Regions from separate parts of the Homo sapiens genome. Here region 1 is linked to region 2. The links come from fine-mapping of genetic effects on gene expression. Tissue or cell type: nasal epithelium. Region 2 holds a variant in brackets; the other region holds the start of a gene. All regions are shown on one strand. Distances are from middle to middle.

The links. PIP is the estimated chance that this variant, and not a neighbour inherited with it, causes the effect.
Region 1: it holds the start of EGLN3, and the variant in region 2 is fine-mapped to the expression of EGLN3 in nasal epithelium (TOPMed, PIP above 0.99).

The regions. Positions count from the first base shown.
Region 1 is chr14:33,946,599-33,956,237 of GRCh38, reverse strand. It overlaps EGLN3 (egl-9 family hypoxia inducible factor 3), which reads left to right and starts at 5,164. Exons shown (of 5, transcript NM_022073.4): 1 at 5,164-5,842. The coding sequence starts at 5,486. RefSeq lists a silencer at 5,027-5,106 and an enhancer at 5,227-5,396.
Region 2 is chr14:34,054,946-34,064,584 of GRCh38, reverse strand. It overlaps EGLN3-AS1 (EGLN3 antisense RNA 1), which reads right to left. Exons shown (of 3, transcript NR_184209.1): 3 at 2,223-5,453. All of the region lies in intron 5 of LOC102724945 (a long non-coding RNA gene), which reads left to right. Among named protein-coding and RNA genes, the nearest start is that of EGLN3-AS1, 20 kb to the right of the region's middle. RefSeq lists a silencer at 4,009-4,368 and enhancers at 4,267-4,768, 9,252-9,301. The variant G/A (reference allele first, on the strand shown) is at 4,478.

The sequences.
Region 1 (9,639 bases), 110 kb after region 2:
CTCAAATTTTGTCCTACATTGTTATTCTCTTGCAGAGTGACCTTGGGCAAGTTCCTTAGCCTCTTTATTTCTCACTTTTGTCATCTTCATAATGGAGAAGAAGAATAGTACCGATTTCCTGGTGGTGTTATAAGAATTAATTGAAGTAATGTTTGTAAACTTTTAGCACAGTACTAAGTGTTGCAAAAATGTTTAATGGATCAATAAATAAGGTTGCCTTTGCTCACAGTGAAGTCATGCAAAATAATGATAAACCTTCTGATGATATAGGATGGTAAAAACACACACACAAAATATTCAGATACCAGCTAGGAGGAAGAGAACCTCAGGTATGGCAGTACTTTGATGGAAAAGAAGACATGTAGACATTTTTCATCAGAAATAAAAAAGGACACGATGGAACCTTCCCATATTTCTGTTGGAAATGTAAAATGGTACACCTATTGTGGAAAACAGTTTGGTGGTTTTCCAAAAAGTTAAACATAGGCCGGGCGCAGTAGCTCATGCCTGTAATCCCAGCACTTTGAGAGGCCAAGGCGGGTGGATCACTTGAGGTCAGGAGTTTGAGACCAGTCTAGCCAACGTGGTGAAACCCCATCTCTACTAAAAATACAAAAATTAGGTGGGCATGGTGGCGGGCACCTGTAATCCCAGCTACTTGGGAGGCTGAGGCAGAAGAATCGCTTGAACGCAGGAGGCGGAGGTTGCGGTGAGCCGAGATGGTGCCATTGCACTCTAGCCTGGGTGACAAGAGCGAAACTCTGTCTCAAAACAAACAAACAAACAAACAAACAATTGGCTGGGTGTGGTGGTAGGTGCCTGTAATCCCAGTTACTTGGGAGGCTGAGGCAGGAGAATCGCTTGAATCCGGGAGGTCGAGGTTGCAGCGAGCCGAGATTGCGCCATTGCACTGTAGCCTAGGCGACAAGGGCAAAACTCCATCTCAAAAAAAAAAAAAAAAAAAAAGAAAGAGTTATAAAATTACCATATGCCCCCAAAACTGTATGCCTAGGTCTATTCTCCAAAGAATTGAAAACAGGTACTCAACATACTTATGCATGCATGTTAATAACAGCACTATTATAATAGCCAAAAAGTGGAAACAACCCAAATACTCATCAGTGGATGACTGGATAAACAAATTGTGGTATATCTACGTAGTGGAATTATCATTCAGCCATAAAAAGAAATAAAATCTTGGTAAATGGTACAAAACATCATGCTAAGTGAAAGAAGCCAGTCACAAAAGGTCACAGGTTATATGATTCCATTATTAGGAAATATCTAGAATGGGCAAATCCATAGAGAAGGCAGATTGATGGTTGCTAGGGGCTTGGGAGAGGAGGCAATGGGGAATAACTGCTTAATAGGCACAGTTTTCTTTTGGGGTGGTGAAAATGTTTTGGAACTAGAGAGAGGTGGTGGTTTCATAACATCGCGAATGTAGTAAATGCCACTGAATTGTTCATTATAAAATCGTAAATTTTATGTTTTGTGAATTTTACCTCGTTAAAGTCAAAATGCATACATATATAAATAGGACAGTGTTACAGTTGAGAAGGCAGAAGCATCCCATGCTTCCTCTTCCACTCAACTGAGACTCTTTGGTTTCGTCATCTGTAGGAAAATGAAGTTGAACTAGGTGACCACTAATATCTCTTCCAGTTCAAATTCAAAGGTAAGAAAACTCAACATTTTTCTTTCTCCCCTACTCCTCCACATGCTTGAAAATGACTGCATCTATACTGCAGATGCACACTGGAAGACAATGTTGCTGTAATTAAATTACAGGGAAATTAATTTGCTTTAGTTATTATGGAAAGGTATTTTAATATTCATTATTATGACACAAATTAGTGGACAAATAACTAAAGCAAATGCACTTTAACAATTAGCTTGGGTTTTCCCTCTCTGATGCTCAGACCCACAGCCTGTGCCTGGCTCCAGCCTGTCTGTGTTCCTCCGTGCAATCACACACTCTGATTTTTGCCAGTCACAGTATCTCTGATTCCTCTGCCAAATGCAGTGCTGGCAGCCCTAAGCTGATCGGGAGGTCCTTGATTGATTAATGAGTGCCCTTGCCAAGCAGGGATGGTGCCAAGGGATTGAATTCCTTTCTAAACTGCCCATGCTTTACAACCAACATAATCTAGAACAGTTGTCACTAGGACTCACTTAGACTATTGCTCTAGTTATAACGAGTTACAATTTTACTGTGAAATTATTGAAATATTATTTGAACAGTAAACTAAATTTACCCACTCCTGGGATTTGAAGTCTTGGGTCAACATGTTCATTCTGGAAGGTGGTTGTATAATTTTCTGTATTTTACTGACCACCACCCCTCTACCAGTGATTGCAGGTTTCCATTCCTTTGTAAATTCCCTCCTTATCGTTCCTAGGAATAAGGTGTATCTACAAAAAGCCTCCAGCTAGAAACATTTCAGCTAGTTACTAAGGATTATCTGTCACCTTCCCCCTTTTTGATTCTGTCCCTCTTCAGGGATATCTACTTCTGAGATTTACACAGTCCCCAAAGCTGCAAAATGCACGACCCAATGCCAACCAGGGTCTACATTCAGGCTGTCTTAGACCAGGTTTCTCCTGGTCACCCCATTATCCATAGTGCCCCTGGAGGAGATCACTGCAGGAGGCAAAGCAGTTCCTTCTGTGCAGGGTTCAAGCAGAAGTAGAGAGGAGGGCTTTCCTCCTTTTTGGTACTGCACTCCATTTCACTCCTTGCTGCAATTTTTTTTTTTTAAGGCTAAATTTCACTTTTGTCACCCAGGCAAGAGTGCAGTGGCATAATCTCAGCTCACTGCAACCTCCACCTGCTGGGTTCAAGTGATTCTCTTGCCTCAGCCTCCCGAGTAGCTGGGATTACAGATGCCTGCCACCATGTGTGGCTAATTTTTGTATTTTTAGTTGAGGCGGGGTTTCACCACGTTGGCCAGGCTGGTCTCAAACTCCTGACCTCAGGTGATCTGCCCACCTCGGCCTCCCAAAGTGCTGGGATTACAGGTGTGAGCCACTGTGCCTGGCCCTTTGCTGCAATTTAACAGTCCTCCAGTTTTCACTTTATGTCTCTGGCTCCCACCACTCAAATGTCCACTGCTCAGATAGACAAAGCTGAGAGACAAATGCCCTGTAGAACTCCTAAGTTCTCCCTCCACTGGCCTCTAAGCTTTTGTGCTGGGTCAGGCTAATTTGCTTGACTCTTTTCCAGTGACTTCTCTTTGGGGAGGCTCCCCAGCCCCTTTTGCAAATAGATCCTTCCAGATAAGCCCAGACATACTGAATCCCAAGTGGAGGCTGCTATGGCTCAGGGTCAGACATTGAGTTCCCAGTAACTATTTATTAGCCATTCACTATGTGCTAAACACTGGGGTTCCAAGGATGATGGTCTCCTCTCATCATGGAGCTGCCTTGGGAATTTAGACAAGAGCTCTTTGAGCAGTGATGGCCTTTACCCCAAGGAGGGGTACCTCCTGCTCAAAGGTAATACCAAAGGTGCCAACTAATCACTGACTTGGCAGAGAACCTCTCTCAATATAACTAGAAGTTTCATCAAAGTTTCTTAAGCACTCCACCATTGACTGCTCTCCTTCACCATCCCCCAGGTTCTTACTCAACCACGTGCCTCTGTCTGCTTCTTTCCAACTTGTAGCAGCACCTTTCCTCTTCTATTCTTTGTTCTTGTCCTGGATGTCATTCCCTTTCTCCCCTCAGAGGCAGAGAGGAGAGGGCTGCTGGAGGAAGAAGAAAAGTGAAAAAGCTGTAGAAATTTGCTTCCACAATAAACAATACCCGAAAAACCTGTACATTCTTTTCTTCAACTTAAATGAAGAACCCAAGTGTGCACTCATATGAAGTAAAAAAGGTGCAAATAGGCCGGGCACGGTGGCTCACGCCTGTAATCCGAGCACTTTGGGAGGGCGAGGCGGGCGGATCACCTGAGGTCGGGAGTTCGAGACCAGTCTGACCAATGTGGAGAAACCTCACCTCTACTAAAAATACAAAATTAGCCAGGCATGGTGGCGGGCGCCTGTAATCCCAGCTACTTGGGAGCCTGAGGCAGGAGAATTGCTTGAACCTGGGATGCGGAGGTTGTGGTGAGCAGAGATCACACCACTGCACTCCAGCCCAGGCAACAAGAGCAAAACTCCGTCTCAGAATAAATAAATAAAAAAAATACAGTTCCTTTTTTTTTTTTTTTAAAGAAGTACAAATAGCTTTGCATGCAATTTATGAATTTTTTCCTGATTCTGATCGCTGGTGTTCAGTAGGAAAGGGAATCAAAACTCCATAAAGCAAATCAGCTTATCTGTAGATAACCAAAGTCTTCTCAGTGGTGTCTGTCCCTCTTGTGAAAGTACAGCTGCTTGTGGGAAAAGTGAGAGACCTAGAATACAGTGTATCTTTTGGGGGACATACCTCTGACTGTTACAGAAGCATGTGATTAATTTGGAAGGTAGAATTTCGGAACATCATATTTTAATAGGAAGCTTGAAAGGTAAGTAGAGGAAAACATCAAGCAAAGCAAAATACACCATTTGCAGAGTTCAATCAGATATGACTCAGCATTTCTTCATTGTGCTCATCCCCAGCTCCTCAAGCACATAGTGCCTTGCACACAGTAGGGGCTGAGGGAAATATTCGTTAATGCATTAATTTTAGTTAAAACTAGATACCTCCTAATCTCTCAGTGGCTTGAACTGGGTCAAACAGCAGAGGAATGGGGTAAATAAGGAAAGACACCCGGTAAAGGTAGAACAAGACCACTGCTTAATAAATATATTCGTTTTTGGGGTTATTATTTTGCTCAAAAGTCTATGAGGTGACCAACCCAGAATGTGGCAGTTAATTCTATTTACATTTTCAGTGTGGGATCCAGGTTTTCAAGTTTGTTATGTGATTTTATGCAAAACAATATGCAAATCCAGCGCATTCTAAAAATTCAGTCTGCTTTCCAGCCGCTCCCCTGGTCACAAACAACTAAGGTTGGCGCCGGGCTCTCTGGGATCCTTCGCGGAGGGGCAGAGCAGGCGGGGGTGACTGGCAGCGGGGCGGGGGAAAGGGCGGTCCCGGAGGCGGTCCCGGGGCGGAGCCCGTGACGCGCGGAGTCGGCCGGCTTAAGGGCCGGACCTCAGCGTCTCCCGGAGTCTGGCCGCAGTCGCGGCAGTGGTGGCTTCCCATCCCCAAAAGGCGCCCTCCGACTCCTTGCGCCGCACTGCTCGCCGGGCCAGTCCGGAAACGGGTCGTGGAGCTCCGCACCACTCCCGCTGGTTCCCGAAGGCAGATCCCTTCTCCCGAGAGTTGCGAGAAACTTTCCCTTGTCCCCGACGCTGCAGCGGCTCGGGTACCGTGGCAGCCGCAGGTTTCTGAACCCCGGGCCACGCTCCCCGCGCCTCGGCTTCGCGCTCGTGTAGATCGTTCCCTCTCTGGTTGCACGCTGGGGATCCCGGACCTCGATTCTGCGGGCGAGATGCCCCTGGGACACATCATGAGGCTGGACCTGGAGAAAATTGCCCTGGAGTACATCGTGCCCTGTCTGCACGAGGTGGGCTTCTGCTACCTGGACAACTTCCTGGGCGAGGTGGTGGGCGACTGCGTCCTGGAGCGCGTCAAGCAGCTGCACTGCACCGGGGCCCTGCGGGACGGCCAGCTGGCGGGGCCGCGCGCCGGCGTCTCCAAGCGACACCTGCGGGGCGACCAGATCACGTGGATCGGGGGCAACGAGGAGGGCTGCGAGGCCATCAGCTTCCTCCTGTCCCTCATCGACAGGCTGGTCCTCTACTGCGGGAGCCGGCTGGGCAAATACTACGTCAAGGAGAGGTCTAAGGTAGGACGCGCTCGGCGCCCTGCCGCAGCTGCTCCCGCGGGGACGGGAGGCACTCGGAGTCCGTTGTATGTCGACTTCCCAGGGCCGTAAGCGAACTTTGTTTTTTAACCAAGAAGTCAGCCTGGTTTGTCTCTACTCGCTGCTTCCCCCCACCCCTCGCCCCAGCTCCTCTGAGCGAAAGTCAACGTTAAGGGGCTCAGGTGAACCATGATGATGACCTTCTGTTGACTTTGAAATATTGGCTCTTGTGGGTGACAAAAGCCAGACAAGCTGTGGCTGTGGTCCGATTTTAAGACGAGGTTCTCAAAGATCCAAAGGAGGGAAAGGGTATTGGAAACACTGTGTATCATCTGAGACACACGTGTCCTCATGATCTTAAATGCCTACTTTAAAGCCACCTAATACTGCCCTTCATTGTGGTCAGAAGAGATTTCTACAAAAGCACTCAGAATTCTGGAGGCAGTTGTGATTTTGCCATGTGGCAGTTGGTTTGTGGAGTTGGGCAGGTGTGAAAGGGTAAAACTCCACTTCTGAATGCTGCTTCTGCCCCCTGGGACCCAGCACATTGTTAGACCATCTTCTTGACTGAAAATTCTCTCCTGATGCTGAGCCCTGCACCACCACCTTCCTTTTCCTAACTATGAATTGATGGCAAAGTCCACTCAAAACAACCAGTTAAGTGCTCACGAGAGAGTAGTCAAGCACCTCCAGAAAGAAACCGGGTTTTTGTTCACATAGCAGGAAGTGACTCCCTGGGTGGTAATTTATCTTGGAAACACAGGTAGATTGGCAGAAAAACGGGAACATGTAGGTACCGCGATGTTGGTGCATGTCCATTACTTTGGGATAGGCTTTCTCAGTCTTTCCTCAAATGATAGTTGAGCCAGTTTTCCAGTGGCAATTCTGAGTGACTTGCGCTTGTCTTATGGTGTGGTCAAGGGACGTTCAGAACTACGGAAAACTTTTACTGAAACAGCGAAGCAGAGTATACCGGCATGAGAGGGAAGATGAACACTCACCTATGTACCACTCTTTGACAATAAATATAGTATTTCTCAAATCAGTCTCAAGACTGATCCTGTCTCAGAACAGACCATTGTTCTCTCATTTCTCTAATACGCTGAGAGGAACACTCTGAATAAAGGCTAAGTGGTGAGGATTGGAAACGTGTGGGAGTGAAGGGGTGGAGGTGGATGAGTGCAGTGGGGAGTCACAGTTTGCCGTACAACTTCCAAGCCAAGAGGCCATGAATAGAATATCTGAAAGCATCGTTATTAATGCACCCAAGTAAAGTAAATCTTAGAAGATACTGCTTTCTAAATTTTACTTTGGGGAAAAAAATTCCGCGTGAGCTGAACTCTGTAGGAGATTGATGCTAAAGTGTTTCTTTATTCTTCTTCCATCATGTTGGTGGTGGATTAGTCACTCGTCTTTGACTAGTTTGATTTTTGCATTAAATGACCTTGCTGTCTTCTGTGGTGGAGGTGTGTCGGGGAGGGGAAGGGTCAGCCTCAGTGTTGCTGAGATGCTGGTAGTTTCTACCTGGAAGAGCAGACGGCTTCTTATTGGGTTTTTAAATGTTTCTTGTAAATTTAGGTGTTAGGAGTTTTTCTTCATCATTCTAGGAGCAGAATTTGCTCTGAGGGAGGTCAGGATTAATTGGTATGGAAAGAGGCCACTAACATTGAAAGTTAAATATTTTTATTTAGCTTTGACTTAATGGATAGGGATAGGGTTTCAGACTAGAATTTAACTCAAATGGAAGGAAAAACACTGTGTAAGTTAGGGTAAGGGAAAGAAAGATCCTGTAGATATGATTCATCAATTTTAGGTTATCTTTTGGGTGGAATGAAAAACTTTCCAGGTGACCCTGTCAGAAGGTGATCGTGAATTGAAAATAAAATTTATCCTGTCCCACCCCCAGATTTCCAGGTTTACTTTGGCTGGTTTGTCACAAAGCTCCCTGCCCTTTAGATAAATCACCTTTCGATTGGAATATTCCCTGGCCAATTAGAACCAAATGCAAACCAGGCTTGAGCAAACAACTAGTGTAGTTAAATTTTTTTTAAGTGTGCTTTGCTTGTATACAGAAGTCTCCTTAGTGATGTCTTGTGGTCTTGGGTTTCTTGTTTGAAGTTCATTATTAAAGTCATGGTAGAAACACTTTCCATTTCTACATGATTTTTATTGGTTTCACATTAATTTATCCTTCTTTTTCTTCACTCACTTTTTATCCCTCAGCTGAGCTCCTCATTTTGTGCTGCTTTCCAGAGCAGTGATAGAGACCCAGTTTACCGGTTCATCCTTCACCCGTGTTTTCAAGAAAAACTAAAGTTTTAAATTTATTTATTATTATTATTTTTTTGAGATGGAGTCTTGCTCTGTCGCCAGGCTGTAGCGGCTCACTGCAATCTCTGCCTCCTGGGTTCAAGTGATTCTCCTGCCTCAGCCTGCTGCATAGCTGGGACCACAGGCACGCCACCCTGCCCAGCTAATTTTTGTATTTTTAGTAGAGACGGGGTTTCACCATGTTGGCCGGGCTGGTCTCGATCTCTTGACCTCATGATCCACCCGCCTCGGCCTCCCAAAGTTCTGGGATTACAGGCTTGAGCCACTGTGCCCGGCCCTTAAATTTATTTTTAAGTTTTAATTAAGGAAATTTTCAAACATACATAAACATAAGAGGCTAATATAATGAGCTCCCATCACCCAATTTCAACAATTGCCAATATGTACATTTGTTTTAGACCAATTTTTTTTAGCTACTTTAAATTTCTTGAGGTTATGCTTATTCATGCACTTACCCAAATTTCATTTCTTTTTTTGTTCTTTGCTAGACTTGGAAAGATCATTGAATAATATTGCCCTTTATCTCAATGAAACAATAGCAAAGATATTGGGAGTAAAACAGAAAGATACACTGGACCTAAAATTGAAATTGTGGAAGAATATAGAAAGAAATATTAGATGGTTCTGCTTCCTGCCAAGAAAGTTGTTAATGGTCAGAATTTGTCTACCTCATCTTTGCTGGAGAAAAATCCAAGGGTGTTGAAGACCCCTTGGGAAGTGGTTCCTGTAATGTACAGCTGTATGGCCCCCCCTAACTTCAAGCATGATCATTGCTTTCAGGCTAGCAAAGGATTTATCCGCTCGCTACTCCCTTTTGGAGATTTTAGACCATATCCAAGATAAATATTGGTCATAATTTGCTCCTTTTTCTTTGGCTGCCTAGATCTTGAAAATGGCTGTTTTCCAGAGAATGTATAATTTTTAGAACCAAAAGTCCCTCTGCTTCAAACAGCTCACTGTAGACTCACTAGTTAGTGACTCTAATAAGAAGAACTACCTTTTATTGAGCAGTTTGTATTGTCTGGCACTGTGCTATGCACTTTACAAATACTATCTTGCTTAATCTTCAGAAACACAGTCTTAAACATATTGAGTGATTAAATACTGTGCCCAAAGTTTCAAAGTCAGTGGTAAGAAACAGTTTAAATGGGGGCTGGGAGCTCAGGCTCAGTGTTAACTAACTTCGTGGCTTTAGGCAAGTTGCTTGGTTTACACCAGGTGCAAAATGAAAGGAAATAATGCCGTAAAGCTGTTGGAGGAAGAAGCATTAAATAAGATGATGTTTATGAAATGTTTAGCAGAATTCCGAGCCTTCATCAGTGTTTTAAGTCTCCAGAGGGGAAATTTGGGATCCTAACCTAGATTTGTGTAACTCCAGAGACTGTGTTATTTCCTTTTATTCTCTCCTACTTCCGACCTTTCATTTATTCAGCAAATGTTATGGAGTG
Region 2 (9,639 bases):
GTTTGTAGCTGCAGTATTCCATTCTTTGCCTCTGTCATCACCTGGCATTCTGCCTGTGTGCCTGTGTCCAAATTTTCCTCTTCTCGTAAGAACGCCAGTAATACTGGATTCAGGGTTCATGTTAATTTGATACATCTGCAATAATCCTATTTCCATTCACAGGTTACTTTCACAGGTTCTGGATGGACATAAATCATGGGGGAGCACTATTCAACGCTGTACAGGAGTGATGATACTTCCTTCTTCGTATATTTCTATTTCATCCAAGTTTCTTTTTGCAACCTATATGTATTATTTCTATACCAGCAAAAACGCACATGAAAAATGCAATCTCCACCACCAGTAAAATTTGTTCTCCTTTGAAAAATACAACAAACTGCATTTGTTGAAGGGGTTAGTGCTGTCCTGGAACATGCAGGTAAGGTTACTCGTGCCAGTCATGGTGACTTTGCTGGGAGCCTCCCTATACTCCCAGCCAAACCGTGTTGAAAGGACAGGGAGGAGTGTTGGGTTGCAGGTGCCTGGGGAAGTGTCTGGACATCTCTGCTCAGGCCAGGGCCAGGGATGTGGGAGTGTTCTGTCCTGCTCTGCGGTAGGCTCCTGGCTTCCTTGATATGGGGCTCACCCGGAGAGATTGCATAGACCCTCTGTGGCAGCACCCCTTCCAGAACCAATACAGGAGGCAACTCAGAAGAGCATGGCTGTGATAACTGAAGCCACATGCAGCCTGGCAGGATAAACACTGCCTGGGAATCAGATGCTATTTTCCTGGCCTCTCTCAGGTACTGGGGCCCAGTGGGGAGGTGATTTCTCTCACGACAGACACACCCCAGGCTGTCCTCTATTAGTCACAGCACATGCTTAACTCTGTTTGGTTATGTTCCCCTGACGTTCTGCACGTCCCACCATCCAGCAGTGTGTGTTTACCCCTCCCCACAGCTAGTTGGACTAAACAACATCTCTCGTGCAACACGTTCTAAAGGAGCAGCTGGGAATCAGGTTTAAATCTTGGATTTTCAGCATAACTGAGTTAAAAATCCCTGAGACATCTTTTGTCTATGGGTGCCAGGGAGAGAAAGCAAACAAGAGAGAAAGAAGGAATTCTTAGTGTGTTTGACTTAAAAGCTCGGACGGCTTCTTTCAGAAGGCACTGGTGTGTCAGGCTAATTTTTTAAATGTAAGAGAATCCTGTTTGGGGCTTTCAGTGGGTAGATTTAGCTATTAAGAAACAAAAACACCACTGGTTTTTTTTAAGTGGGGCAGGGTGGGCTTCTCCAAACAACAGTTCCTAGTCAAACTCTTGTAGAATGTCAATTTCAAGCTCAGTCCCACCTCACTGAGAGACACAGGCTTTCATTCTTTTCCTACACAGCGATTTAACCCTTTACTAGGGTAAAGGATAGTTATAGGATAAGAAAAAAAAAATCTCCTTTTTAAAACAGGATCCATCTGTTATCAAAAGATCCCACTTCCTGATGGACACCTAACCACCATTTACTGGGGGATCCCTGGGGAGGCCACTGTACTAAGTGCTTTGCATATATTATCTATTCCGTTCCCCCAGCACCACTGTTATCCCCATTTCACAGAAGAGGAAACAGAGTCAGAGAAACTGAGTGATTTGCCCTAAATTGTAGTCATTGGCTACTCGAGCCTAGGTCTGAGCAACTACAAAGCCTGGAATCTTGACCAATTCATTGAGCTGCTCCAAAAGAGGACAACACCTGTGAAAGGGTCCTGCACAGAGGCAGAGAATAGTAGACATTCATAGATATAAGGTGGATATGGTTTCCATTTCCACCTTTACCATTTACTTGCTGCGTTGAATTCAATGACTCAGTTAATTTTCAGAATTGTAGGTGACCCACTTGTAGAGCATGGATGGTTCCCTGTCCTCAAGGGTTCTACTATCATCTGGTGTTTCCCCCTCAGGCACCAACCAGAACGCCATATTTTAGGGAGGGTAAGGATTGAAAGAAGAACCTGCAAAGCATGGTCGCCAGCAGCATCATGCTCAGGACAGCCCTGGTCTGGAAACCCTGGCCAGCCATGGCATTCCAGAGGCACCCAGCCCGCCCCAGGGTGGGGTTAGAGCAGAGGGGTCTTGGGGAGCTTGCTCCATTCTCTGTTGTGACCGAAGATTGTGGGTGTACAAGCGTAGCCTCACCCGAGACATGCTCTCCAGGCCCATCCCTTTTACACCTTTAGCATAGCACTTGACCTGCAAGGTTGTAATTATTTTTAATTTGAATATTCAGAAAAGTACAAATGAAAAAATAATGATTACTCATATTCCAGCAACCCACAGTTAGCCAGTGTTGACATATTTGCTTCTAGTTTTATTTTATATCTATTCCTTAAAATAAAAAACTGCATGATATATAAGCACATTGTTCTTTGAAACAATTATTACAATATGAGAATAAGCTAAATTCCTATGACTACCATTTCAAATCTGAATTCCTCCCCTTCCATTCAAAGACAGCTTTAAGTTTGGTGTGTATTTTTCCAGCATATATATATATATATATATATATATATATATATATATATATATATGGGATTTTTTGTGTGTATGTACATTTTCTTTCTATAAATGGCATCATGCTGCATGTATCATTTTGCAACTTGCTGTTTTTCATTCAATATACTTTTGAGATTTTGATACACATAGATGCAGCTGATCCCTTTTAATAGCTCTAATAGTACTCCACTGTATGAACATACCACATTTATAGATAAGTGCATTTGAATTTTCCATTTTTTCCTATTATGAACTATGCTAAAATAGACATCACTCATACTCAGGACCACCACACTGCACAGTTCCAGAAAGCTCCATTCACTTCTACGAACGTGTCTTCTGGAGTTGTACAGCATACAGCCTGCTCTGCTGTGCTTGGCAGCCCCTGCCTGTATCTCCTCCATTTATTCTATTAACAAGATTTATTCGGTGCCTACTGAATTCCAGTGCTCTGCTTGTATTAATGTATTTAGACCTCTGAAATGTCCTAAAAAGTAAGTCGTTTTCACCATTTTTATTTTCCAAAACAAGAAGGTGAGGACAGATGGGGGTACTCACTTGGCTAAGATCACACGGTCTGTAAATTGCAGAGCCAGCATCAGAACCTGCACAGCCTGGTTCCCAAGTCTGGGTGCTGAACCGTCATACTAAGTCTTCCTCATGTTTCACTGTCTACTTAGTTAATATCTCCCACTCATCTGTAACCCTGAGAGCAGGGACCACGGGGAGCCACTTATTTTGCGTCACTGGTGCCCAAATAGTGCCTGATCTCCATGACAGGCTCAATAACGTTCTGTCAGTCACTTTACTCATGACTGCAAGCTCCTTTCCTAATCAACGTTTCCTCTCCCCCTTCCCCATGTATCTCTTTCCCTTCATAAGCACCCACCTCGTCTCCCTCTCCACGACATTCCAACCCCTGAGCAAGGCTTTGAAAAAGTGACATAGGCACATCACAGATGTGCCGTTGGCTCTAATTTGTGAAAGAACATTTTACCGAGGGGCAAAGGAGGACTTGGAATTTTTTCCTGCCCCCAGGAGGCCCAGACTTGCAACCCTGTAGGTCTAGAACTTAAGCGGAGGTCCTGCTATGTTCACACATTTAGTAGAGAATGACTTCTAATTCCGTCATTCAGCTGTCAGGCACGTAGGCCGCTTCCTTTTATAAAGCTGGTTGTCGTAACTAAACAGGTGCAGATTTGAGGAAATGCAGACCGACTGGAATGATAAGTCCCACTGCATGTGAGATTAGGTGGATAGAGGACTCGAGTCCCACCCGCCCTTTACTGTCTTTAGTCTCCCCAGTCCGCCCTGGGCACCACCCGCCGAGGCTGGGCTCTCGCAGCTACCTCTCCATCTATCTTCATGACAGCTGCGGGGGCCGGGGGCAACTTAGTCGGGACAAACGTGAGCGAGCGAGTGTGTGGTTCAAAGAAAGGAAACGCAAGGGACAAGGAGAAGGTCGAGCTCCGGCTGAGGAAGAATCACGGGCCGGGCTCGGTCTTGCCCGTCACCCTCGCGCCCCTACTTCCGGGCGGGCAGGCACCGATGGGGACTCCGCCCAGGGAAGGCGAGCCCCACGCCCACGTGGCTTTCGAGGGGGACAACCTGGGGCGTGGGGACACTGCAGGGCACAGGGCACCCGCGAGTGGAACCACCTAGGCGCCCCCTCCCGGGGCCGGTACGTGCGGGCTGCTGGCGCTGCGCGCGGGAGCCCTCCCTCGGCCCGGGGCTGCGCTGGAACGCGCTGACTCACGCTAGCGCTACGTGAGCTGCGAGCCTGCCGGGCGGGGCTGGCTGTCCAGCCCCGGCCGCCGCCCGCCGCAGTTACCGACTACCTTCGGGGCGGCCGCGGGCGCAGGCACAGTGCGTGTGGCTCGGTGTCCGCCGCGGCGCGCCCTGGCGAGACTTCACCCCGCGCCCCGCCGCGCGCTCGCCAAGGCTGCCCGCCGG[G/A]CATTTTTGATCATTTCGATTGTCCCTCCGGCTCGAAAGCTGCAGCAGAGCTGGGATCTTGCATCCGAAGCGAGGGCACCAGCCGGTATCTGCTAGGCAGGAGCGGCCAGAGTCGCGTTAGGGCGGCCTTGGGCAGGGCGCTTCGGTTTGGCCTCTCTTTGGCTCCGGGGGAGCCTGCGGAGGCCCAGGGCCGGTCTCTGGCTCTGCACTTGATGGCCTCCTATCTAGGGGAAGGGCCAGTTAGTATCCCACCCGCTCCCTCGCCATTGTAGCTCAGTTCATCCCCAAAGACCCCGTGGAGTGGCAAGGGCAGGCATCATCCAATCCATTTGGCAGAGGACATCAAAGCTGAGGTTTAGATATTCATCTGTTGACAATGATGAGGATGTTTCATCGTAACTTTTCTATCTAGAACCTAGCTCTCAGTTTATCAGTTCTAGTGCTAACGTGGCCTGTTTTAGCGGTGTCTCCCATTCTGTGTTCTCTGGAAAGACAAGTTAAAGGGGAGAGTTTGTATTAACAGGTGTCACGTCTTCTCACTCTCGCCATATCCCTGTACCTTCTGGTAGATGTAAACGGACACAACTGTGCTTATAAAACCAATAACTCGCCAGTCTTCCTCAGGTCCATTCAAGACCATTTGAGTGGGTCCTTGGGTGCCATGGACAGAAATCTTGTGGGGACATGGATGAGGGGGGCCTCCAGCCCCTGAGGACTGTCAAGACCAGGGCCTTGGGGAAGGGCAGCCGAGCTTCACATTGTCCCCACTTAGCCACTTGTCAGGGTTGCTGTGAGGCTCCAGATGAAAATACATGGAGTTTCCTTAACTACCGTGGCCCACAGAAATGACACATGAGATTCTTTTCCTTGGTCGTAGGATACTGGGGGCGGGGTCAGTGAGAGGCACTGTCCATCTCAGAAAAATCTGTATCACTCTTGTTTGCTCATCTTGAGGAAGCCATGGAGAGCACAGTTTCTATGGAGTCAGCAGAAACAAAAATGAGATTAATTCACACGTAAATTCTGCCTTTAGATACAGAGACCTAGGTTATAGGATCTTGACTGTATACACAGTTAAGCCATTTGTAGAGTTTTCCCTATTTGGGGGTAGTTTTTGTTCTGATTTTTTTTTTCAGAGGGGATGTTTGCCAAATTCTTTCTAGATTATAAAATTAATACAAACTCTCATAAAAGTGAATACACTAAAATATAAAGAAGAAAAAAAAAATCCCGTAATACAACATTCATACACCAATAAAATGTTAGCATTTGAGGTATATTTCTTTCGAAGTATTTCATTTTGTTTTATTTTATTTTATTTTTGAGACAGGGTCTTGCTTTGTTGCCCAGGCTGGAATGCAGTGGTGTGATTACAGCTCACTGTAGCCTTGACCTCCTGGGCTCAAGTCATCCTCTCACCTCAGCCTCCAGAGTAGCTGGGACTACAGGTGCATATCATCATGCTCAGCTAACTTTTGTATTTTTTGTAGAGACAGGGTGTCTCCATGTTAGCCAGACCTGTAGCTGGGACTACAGGTGCATATCACCATGCCCAGCTCATTTTTGTATTTTTTGTAGAGACAGGGTTTCACCACGTTAGCCAGCCAGTCTCAAACTCCTGGACTCCAGCAATCTGCCTGCCTTGGCCTCCCAAAGAGCTGGGATTACAGATGTGAGCCACCATGATCAGCAACCAAGTATTTTAAAAGTTTATTTTATATAATGTCTAATATAATTGAGGCCACATTCTATGTCTTGAAAATATTATTTGCCTTGCTTAATATTATATCGTACACATTTCCCATGTCATTAAACCTTTTATAGTCAATTTATGAATGTATTATGTATTTTTTAAGCAATTCCCTTACTGTTGGAAATTTAGGTTGTCTCTGTTTTTTGGCTTAAGCAATACTCCAATGAATATATTTGTGTATAAATATTTGACCAGCTTATTATCTCCTTAACATAAGCTTCCTAAAGTGAAATTTTTAGGTTTAATAATATAAACATTTTCATGACAAGATCACATTACTTGGTGGCAATTTCCATGAAGACAGGAACTATCTCTGCCTGCTTTACTGCTGTATTACCAGTGTCCAGCATGGAGATGGTTCTTAGTGTGCATGTTTTGTTTGTTTGTTTGTTTGTTTTTTGAGACGGAGTCTCACCCTGTTGCCCAGGCTGGAGTGCAGTGGCGAGATCTCAGCTCACTTCAACCTCCGCTTCCTGCGTTCAAGAGATTTTCCTGCCTCAGCCTCCCGAGTAGCTGGGATTACAGGCTCGTACAACCATGCCTGGCCAATGTTTTTTGTATTTTTAGTAGAGATGGGATTTCACCATGTTGGCCAGGCTGGTCACAAACTCCTGATCTGAAGTGATCTGCCCGCCTGGGCCTCCCAAAGTGCTGGGATTACAGGTGTGAACCACCGTGCCCAGCCTTAATGTGCATTGTTGAATGAGTGAAGAAAACAAGGAAGAAATTTCCCTTCTTGCTTAGGAATATCAAAACTAAAGACTGTGTTTTATCCCAGCTGGTTCTAACCTGCTAAAGCTGACCATTAACTTTAAGGAACCCCCCCGGGCCCCACCCACACACAGGACCTGATTGAAAACTCTTTCCTGACCACAGACAGTGACACTTGTTTAAATGACTGACTGTCTAGAATGCTAGTTGTCAATGCTTAACTAGAATAATCATCAGGCACTTCTCTCCAGCACTTAAAAAGCAACCCCTGACATTTCCCTAACAGGGATACATTGCAAATTTCTGTTTTGGTTTGTGTTCCCTTGCCTGGTAAATTAGTAGACTCAGCTGTGATGAAACAACAACAACGACAACAAACCTCTAGGCTTATTCTTTGACAAATGAATATTGCCAAAATGAAATACATAAAAGTTGTAGCAATCTACAGTTCTACCATCAGTTTATATCTCACTGCTTTTTTGGTGCAATGTGTCTTGACCTTTGTTATTTAATGGATTAAAATGTGGGATAATTTTTTGCCTATTAAATTAGGTAGACTGACCTTTTCTTTTTTGAGACAGAGTTCTACTCTCGTTGCCCAGGCTGGAGTGCGATGGTACAATCTCGGCTCACCACAATCTCTGCCCCCTGGGTTCAAGTGATTCTCCTGCCTCAGCCTCCCAAATAGCTGGGATTACAGGCACACACCACCACACTCAGCTAATTTTGTATTTTCAGTAGAGATGGGGTTTCTCCATGTTGGTCAGGCTGGTCTCAAACTCGCGACCTCAGGTGATCCGCCCACCTCGGCCTCCCAAAGTGCTGAGATTACAGGAGTGAGCCACTGCGCCCAGCTGACTGAACTTTTAAATACAAATGTGATGATTTACATTTTTTCTTATCTATTGAGATCTTAGCGATTTTCTTATTAGTCTGTATGACCCTTTTATACACTAAGAATATTGCAGAGTAAATTCTTCATAATACTTTTAAAGTGAATCCCTGCCAGGAAGATCTTCCTGCAACACATAATTTTGATGTATTAAATTTTTGAAGCAATTGTGCATTTAAATTACTGCTGGAGGTGTTCTAAGATGGAAGGGGTAGTTTCTAGCTACTGGAAATATCTAAGTAGAGACTGTTTGATCCCTTGGGAGGGATTGAAACATATGATGACAGGTTGGACCAGTGCTCTTTCGGTTCCCTTACAACCTTGAGATTTTGTGATTCCATAACCTGTCCAAAAATAAAAGGCAATAAGGTTTTTTTTGCGGGGGGGGGGGGTGGGGTGGGGTGGTAATTTTCTTTCTATTAATACTCTGTAAGATTGACAGGCTCCTACAGAAGTCTAACAACTAAGAGAACCAAAGAATGATTTTCTGAAGCTACTGCCTTTATTCACACTTTTAAAAAGCCCAGGGTGGTTGAAGAGTGTGAATGTGCTTGGCCTTGCAGCTGTGTCCTGGCCCTTTAGAATTTGTTATCAAAACAAAACATGCATTTCCACTGGAAGTTTTTAGAACATTGATTTTGCAAACTTTTTCTAATTTCACTTTTGGTTTCTTCTGTGTAGTAAAATCTGTAAACTTATATTTTGCATATTTATTCTTTGTCAATTATCTGTTGTGTAGATTATTACGTATTTACATACACACAGCAATGCATACTTGTACACGAAAACCATGTATACACTATTTTATGGATAATTTAAGGGATTTTTTTTCAAGTGACTGCTTTCAGTTATGTGCTAACTTTGGAAACTACCACCAACATAAAAATCTGCTCTACTGAGGTATCCACCTAGATTTTTATTGTGGAAGTGCTTAATTCCTGTGTCTTGACATTTAGCATAAATGACATAGAGCTCATTTTACATCTATTGTGTAATGTGAGAGCTGTGTTCTGACAGCTCCTGTATTTCCCTTATTGGAATGTTCATTGTTCATTTGTAACTGCATATTTAATCTTTAGTCTCCTATATAGGCTACAAGTTTTGGGGGGCCATGGGGAGCAAGGGGACCTGATCCTCTGGTATCCCCAGAGTTTAGTGCTTGGCATTCTATAAAATCTCTGTTGAATTGAATTGAATGTAATAAATTACATGTAAAAACTAGATAGGAAAAAGCGCAAGAGGCTGTGGACTTAGTGTGAGGTCAGAAAGCTGGCTGAAAAACTAAGCGATCTGAGCACCTCCTAGAAGCTGGGCACTTAGCTGGCCTATCACCTGCCTTATCTTACTGAATCCTCACAACTTTGTTTTGAGAGTTTTTGTTTCTGTTTTGTTTTTATAGAAGAGGAATCCATGGTTCAGAAGGGTCAATGAACTTAGTCAACTGGTAAATGGTAGGACTGGGAGTTGCTCTGAGTTTATGGTGGCTTGAAAATCCAGGCTCTTTTCTCTTGAGTAGGATGCCTGCAGTATGTAGTCTAGTCTTGATTGGGGCAGAGTTGGGGAGGGAAGATGTGGCTTTAGGAAAGGACCTGGCTCCATTAACTTAGCTGAATTTTGTCTTTGTAATCGCTCCTCTCCACACCCCTTCCACTTCTCCATGCCCTCAGCTTTACTCCCTTCACCCCGTCAAGAGTCCAATGCTCTCATGATGCCTCCCCTCCTTACAGTGAGAGCTTCTGACCTTCTTTTCTAAACAAGCCTCAAACTCTGTCCTCCCCATCCAGCTATAGTCCTTAGTATTCTACT